2 separate regions of the Homo sapiens genome follow, and region 1 is reported to be linked to region 2. Evidence: microRNA targets listed by miRTarBase, many of them from high-throughput screens and not tested one by one. Region 2 holds a microRNA gene; the other region holds the end of a gene's coding sequence.
What was found. Region 2 holds the annotated microRNA hsa-miR-5572 (GUUGGGGUGCAGGGGUCUGCU, at 2,011-2,031, opposite strand). A microRNA usually pairs through its seed, bases 2 to 8, with sites in the 3' UTR of a target mRNA and lowers its output. Matches are read on the target gene's strand: a 7mer-m8 pairs with bases 2 to 8, a 7mer-A1 pairs with bases 2 to 7 and ends in A, and an 8mer does both.

Region 1 (3,000 bases), not on the chromosome of region 2:
ATTATAGGACAGGCTAGATTTAACAAAACCTACAACTTTCTAAATATCAACTGCCAAGAGGCTTTTTATTTTCCAGAGGAACCAGACACTTTGGCAACCAAGAAATTACAGAAATCAAGTATTGTTATGTTTTTGTTTTTCTCTTACAGCTGTTACTTTTAGGATTAAATCATGAATATTTGCTACTTTAACACTGTAACTTTAATGCTTTGGGGCCCACTTAGGTGGCCGATTTTGGGGGGAATCGAAGCCAAATCAAAAGCTTTTTGCTGGATCTCTGAGTGGCTGTCTGGAAAGTCCCTTTGCGCTTCTGTTTGTTGGAATTTCTATGGACAATAAATGGGATTTTAAAAATATATATCAAAAGTCATTGAACTAAGCATTCCACTAGAATTTTTTTTAAAAGCAATGACTATTCAATTGGCTTAAGTGTTTCCTGTTAGGTTAATCTTTTTACTCATCTTCAAAACTGCTTTCCTCCAGTTTAGGTGTAACAATTGTATTTTTTTATAAGTGAATAGACATAAATTTCAACAACATTTTGCTTCAAAGTTTGGAGTGGAGGGCCAGAGATTCTTGTGAATAGGCATCTAACTTCATCTTTTCCCGCGAACCACACTTCTGGGAGACTCTCACCTGGGTAAATGACCTAAGATCACTAACCACCCTATCCCCAGATAACAGGCCAATTTTTTTGTTTGTTTGTTTCTAAAGAACCAGCTAAACCGTGGTCATAGTCAAAATATTGTAAAATGCCATCTCCTTAGGCTACTTCCATTACCTGGTTCATTTCAAAAATCAGAAATTCATTCACCTCTTCCTTCCTACCTCTTTCATGTTTACTTCCTAGGTGCTCACACCTCACCTGGGGGCTCCCATGCCCCTGCCTTCTTGGTCCAACGCAGTCTTGTTTATATTTTATTGTCTAGATTTTAAGACCCAGTTTTGTCTGCATTTTTCCTTTTCTCCCACAAACACAAACATCAAAATGAGATGGTTTCAAAGCAAAGCACTGGGCCTGTCGTAAACTCATTACCTCCAGACGTCTGGCCCGCTAGATGGCTTTATGACACCTCGGCTCTTCCTGTTTTCAAAGAGCCCTAGGTACCCAGCTGGCCACAGTGGCAGGGGTGCGCAGCACCTTCTGCCGGATCTGGGCCTTCCTTGGCTTTCCCTCCCAGCCCCCCTATGCTTTTTCTTCGCGTCCCCTCTTTCATTGGGATCCCCCAAGATCTCTGCCACCGCCCCCACCTTCCACCCAGCTCAGGCCACTTGGCAGTGCTGCCTCTTTGGCCTGCAAATGCTGTGCTCACCCAAACCCTCACTTACAATGACCTTCATTTTAGCCCCTGAATGCAGCCCTCAGAGGGCCAAGCTGGGGGCTAAACATACACAGAAGCTGGGTGGGGGGAAGGGGGCGGTGAAATGGAGGTGGCTGGGGAGGAGAGCCTTGACCATTTTGATCGCTAAGGTCACTTTGGGGCTTTGGTGGGGAGGAGCAGAAGCTCACAGCCTGACCAGCTGGGACCTCCCGGAGCCAGCTAGCCCCACCGAGCTGGGACAGTTGCTCCAGAGTGTAGAGTTGGCCTTTCCCTTGTTTGGAGAGGGGTTTGGCATCTGGGGCTTCAGGAGCCCAGGGAAGGTTAGGGTGCTGTGTACCCAAGCCCCAGCCTGAAAGTGCCTGGCTTCTGGGGCCTGCTGGCTCTTCTGGGCGCTTCTGCAAGGCTAACACTGGGCCCAAGCACAGAGTTCGTGGAGGACCTTGAACCAGGCTTGGGGAGGCACCAATGTCCCCCCACAGGGTCTGTGCTGCTGCATCTGCCTACACAAAGGGATGTGAGGCAGAGAAGGCAGAGACACATCAGAGAGATCTGTCAGGTGGAAGGGCCCTGAATTTTTAACAATGTCTCACTCCCAGGGGTAGAGGAGAAATATCCTGAGTGTGATATTTTGCAGAGAGGCAGAGAAAGCAGGCACACAATGTTTAGGGCCAGCGTCTGGGCTCCATTTGATCAGGTCAGCATTTATTAGTAGGAAGCAGTAACATTTACAACTGGTCCTCGGGCAGGAACCGGGAGGGCCACCACCCGCGGCCGCCCACGCGAGCCCAGCCTTCAGGGGAGAGAGCAGCGCGTCCAATGCACTGAGGACAAACCCCAACCCGCCCGAGGCCCTGGGCTCCTCTAAGCCTCACTGGAGATCTCCACCGAGGTCCCGCGTGCTCCCTGAGGAAAGGGGGCTTTCGCAACTGGTGGGCAACCCCGCCGGGCTTCACCGTGGGCTAGCAGCCGGGGTGTCCGCACTGTTGTCGCTCTGCCTTCATTCTTGGAATTGGGGCGCACTTGGCCCCTGTTTGGGCAGTGCTGGGGGTGAGGGGACTAAACTACAGCACTTTTCAGAAACATGGGGGACATTTACACAAGAGAGGGCTCCCCAAGCCAGCTTGCACTCACAAAATATAGCATTTCTTAAGGAACCAATGGAGCAGGAAAGAGAGGGAGTGGGATAGGGCGAAACCCCAAAGCCACTTGGTTTTTCCAACACGTAAACGAGCAAATACAGAGTCCCCCAAATACCTCAGAGACCAACCACACAGTCACTTCTATCTAAAAAGAAAAAAAAAAAGAAGAAGAAGTCCAAGTCGCTGGAGAGTTTCTGGAAATCAAGCACCAAACACCCACAAAGGAAAACAGCAACAACAACAAATCCGCTGCCCTTGAGCGCTCCCGCCAGCACCGCGCCGGGTCAGTCTCCTTTGGGGCATTTCTCCTTGCTCATCTTTTTCATTTTCATCCTACGGTTCTGAAACCAGATTTTGACCTGTCTCTCTGTTAGGTTGAGAATCCTGGCCACCTCGTAGCGCCGGTCCCGGGTGAGGTACATGTTGAAGAGGAATTCTTTCTCCAGCTCAAGCGTCTGGTATTTGGTGTAGGGACAGCGCTTTTTCCGGGTGGAGCGAGCGTGGATCCAGTTCGCGGCGGGGTTGTCTACAAAGAGGGA
Region 2 (3,406 bases):
GCCTGCAGCCACAAGGGCCCCCACGCAGACCATGGCTGCCGCACCTGCAGACTGTCCTGCCTGCCTCCCTTTACCTCTGTCTGTCTCCCCTGACCCAGTCTCTGGACTGTGTCCTTCTCTGGGTGGGGACCAGGTCTCCTGTCTTCCAGGGCTGATTCGGGGCCTGGCACTGAAGGTTTTTTTGAGTAGATCGGTGCCAGATGGTCCCTGGGCTTCCGGGAAGGACTAGGTACCCAGGAGGCCTTGAGTCTATGAGGCCCACCTTCAGGAGGAGGTGAAGGGGTCTCTCCACACCCGGGTGGGGAACCAGATGTGGAGAAGGATCTCACGTGTGACTGCAGGAAGGTGGATGCTATCCTGAGAAACAGGATTCTGGGCTCAAGGTGGTAACCGTGCTGAGTGCCTGGCTGACTTGAGAGCAACTGCTATGGGGTTTCTCCTTCCTCAGACAGGGTGCTGTGCTTCTAAACTGGGTTCCAGTGAACCACGTGGCGAGAATACTTAACAGACGAAGAGGAGACACACTGCAAGTAAATGGGACTAAGGCTGGAGGGACAAGCATGGCCTCAGGAAATGCTGTGCCCCAAGACCTCGGGCTGAGTGGGACGGACGTGCTGCTGTTAGTGGAGGAGGTGGGGAGGGCTGGGCAGCAGATGACAACTCCCCATTGTGTGCTAGGGGCTCTGCACAGCATTTTTCTTTCTTTTGTTTTTTCAGACAGGGTCTCACTGTGTCACCCAGGCTGGAGTGCAGTGGTGTGATCATGGCTCACTGCAGCCTCAACCTCCTGGGATCAAATGATCCTCCCACCTTAGCCTCCTGAGTAGCTGGAATTACAGGCATGCACCACAACACCTGGCTAATTTTTTTTTTTTTTTTTTGTAGAGACAGGGTTTTGCAATGTTGCCCAGGCTAGTCTTGAACTCCTGGGCTCCGGTGATCTGCCACCTTGACCTTTCAAAGTGCTGGGATTACAGATGTGAGTCACCGCGCCCTGCCTGCACAGAATTGTTCATAAGGCTGACAGACAAGCAGTTCTAATGGAAGCTTTTAACTTGCCACGTGGAAATTCAGATGTTTGGGCTCAGATTCACGCTCATCTGAGGAATCAATTCTGTAGAGAAAAGCTCTATGAGCCGCACTGCTGGGTGTCACCCAGTGACCTCACTGTGAGAAAGCAGGCACCAGCTTGGACTTCTTACCAGGACCACGGGTCTCTTATGAGCTTGTCCTGACGTGGAGTGGAACCCTAGCCCTGGGAGACATGCTGAGGAGGTTCCTTACACACACGGAGAGTGGGCAAGGCCCAGGATCCTGAGAAATGCACAGGACACAGCGGTTCCTTAACCCTCTATGGCCTGAGGTTTTGTTAACAAAGTAAGATAGGTGTTTTTAATATTTAAAAGAGACAGAAAACTTTGCAGTGTTATTTATGCAATTGATTGTCTCTATAGCTATTCTCTAGTTTCTTGAAACAAGACTATAAGGTTTTTGACTTGGGGGACCTGAAAATCCTTGCCAGGGCCATAATGGGTTAAAATGGTATTCAGATCACCTCACAGCACAGCAACATCATCCCAATGCCTTGAAAATGATAAAGTCAAATCACAAAGCCAAGGCCTAAGCATCCAGTCTCTTAGGAACACCATAGGCCTCCTCATAGCCAGAGAGAGAGGAGGTGCTTGGAAACCTCCAGACCTTGTTTTGGTAGCTGGGAGCTTGGAGCTCAGCCTCCTGAATTCAGGCTGTTCAGAAAGCATTTGTGCTGGCTTTCCCAGAATCTCACTCCCTCATTCCCCACCTACCGAACCCTGGAGTCCTGTTGGCAAGACTGGAGTAGGCATTCCCACTTGGCGAGGAGGTAGCTGGGCTGGAGAGGGGGCTGTAGGAAGAGGGGTCTGCCGGGTAGGTGTGGCTCGTTCCAATCCCAAAGGGAGATGACTGAGTCTTGCTGGACTGAGATGGGATTTGCTACAATCAGGACAAAGCAAAGAGATGGAAAGCATCACCAGCAGACCCCTGCACCCCAACCGATGCCCCAGGCTGGTCGCAGGGGCAGTGCCTGCTCTGGGTTGACAGTGACTCCCCATGACCCTCTTGTCTGGCTAGGCACAGGCCTGGGATCAGCCCGGTGTGTGAGGGCCCAGGAACTGCAGGATCTTTGGGGCACGTCTGGTTGAAGTTACTCCCCAGGGCTACGAGGATCCGGGCCCTCTGGAGTCTGGTTACCAAGGCCTTGGCATTATGAACACCTAGAACTCCCTCAGCCCAATCAACACCCACCCTCACAGTGACTATGAGGGTCTGGGGATGTCACAAGGGTTGGTGGTTTCATGCCCTCCTGGCGCAGGGGCAGCCAGAGGTCCAGAGTAGTGAGGGGCTCATTCTTGATGAGGTGTCTCAACCTGCCCAACCTTTCCCTGCCAGCTGCCTCAGGGCATGGCTGTAAGGAGAAAAGGCTGCTGAAGTTGCAGGCTGGGCACCTGGCTCTCCGAGAGCCCTGAGGGTGGATGGTGCTCCTGAGTAGCCAGCTGCTGTTAGGGTGGTTGGTTCCAGCTAGGAGCCGACCCATCCTCAGAACCGCAATCCAAAGAAAACACTTCCCAGAGTGCTCTGCCTCTCTGGTCACCCAGGGGAGATGCCCTCACAGATGCCCATACCTGTCCCGGAAAGGGCGGACGACTCCCTGTCCATGCCACCTGACTCTGGTTTAGCTGCCGGGAGATTTGGGACATGTTCTGGCCCGTGGAAGAAGAGGACTGAATATCATTCACTCCAGGCACATGAACCACTGAAGAGCTAGAAAAGAGGAAAATGCATTTATCCCGAGGACACACCTGGTTTGCATGAGTCTACGTGCCCAGCCAACCACACAATCTGCCCTGGGCCATCTTCCTGGCTCTCTCTCCATGCAGCACGTCACTAGAGAAAATGACTCACACATCGTGAGCCTCAAAGCCCCTTGGCCGTCCTCCTCTCCCTTCAGGGCTTCCTCTACACTGCTGAGTAGTCCTGCCATGTCTAGTAGTCTGGTACTTCCTCTCCTCGTTCTCCCCAGGGTCTCCCACGCACTCTTCAGCCCCTATCCTATGCCTGTACATCCTCTGCTCTCAGCAGATGATTTGGTTCCCAGAAAGAGAGAAGCTTCTTAGAATAAAAATCAGTCCCACTGTTCACTCACTCTTTTGTGCTCTGGTTAATTTGTTCCTTTGGGGCACCTATGAGGCTTAAGGATTCAGGAAATAGGTTGCAGGCTGTCAGTTTTAAACGGAAAGAAAAGCTTCTCAATGAAAACCTGCTGGATGGGGCCTAGTCCTGCTACCCAGAGTTTACCCCTCCCACCTTCAGTTCACCTTCGACTTAACTCAGTTTGTCTTTATTAGGCCCCTGCTGTGTGCCGTGCTCT

Region 1: miRTarBase lists HOXD9 as a target of hsa-miR-5572. The part of its 3' UTR that is shown has no 7-base or 8-base seed match.

What each region holds. Positions count from the first base shown.
Region 1 is chr2:176,123,921-176,126,920 of GRCh38, reverse strand. HOXD9 (homeobox D9) reads right to left here. Exons shown (of 2, transcript NM_014213.4): 2 at 1,984-2,987. The coding sequence ends at 2,746. Among named protein-coding and RNA genes, the nearest start is that of HOXD9, 2.7 kb to the right of the region's middle.
Region 2 is chr15:80,579,804-80,583,209 of GRCh38, reverse strand. MIR5572 (microRNA 5572) reads right to left here and starts at 2,107; the gene lies at 1,971-2,107. ARNT2 (aryl hydrocarbon receptor nuclear translocator 2) reads right to left here. Exons shown (of 19, transcript NM_014862.4): 16 at 2,661-2,799; 17 at 1,806-1,971. It overlaps ARNT2-AS1 (ARNT2 antisense RNA 1), which reads left to right. Exons shown (of 2, transcript XR_007064732.1): 2 at 449-3,180.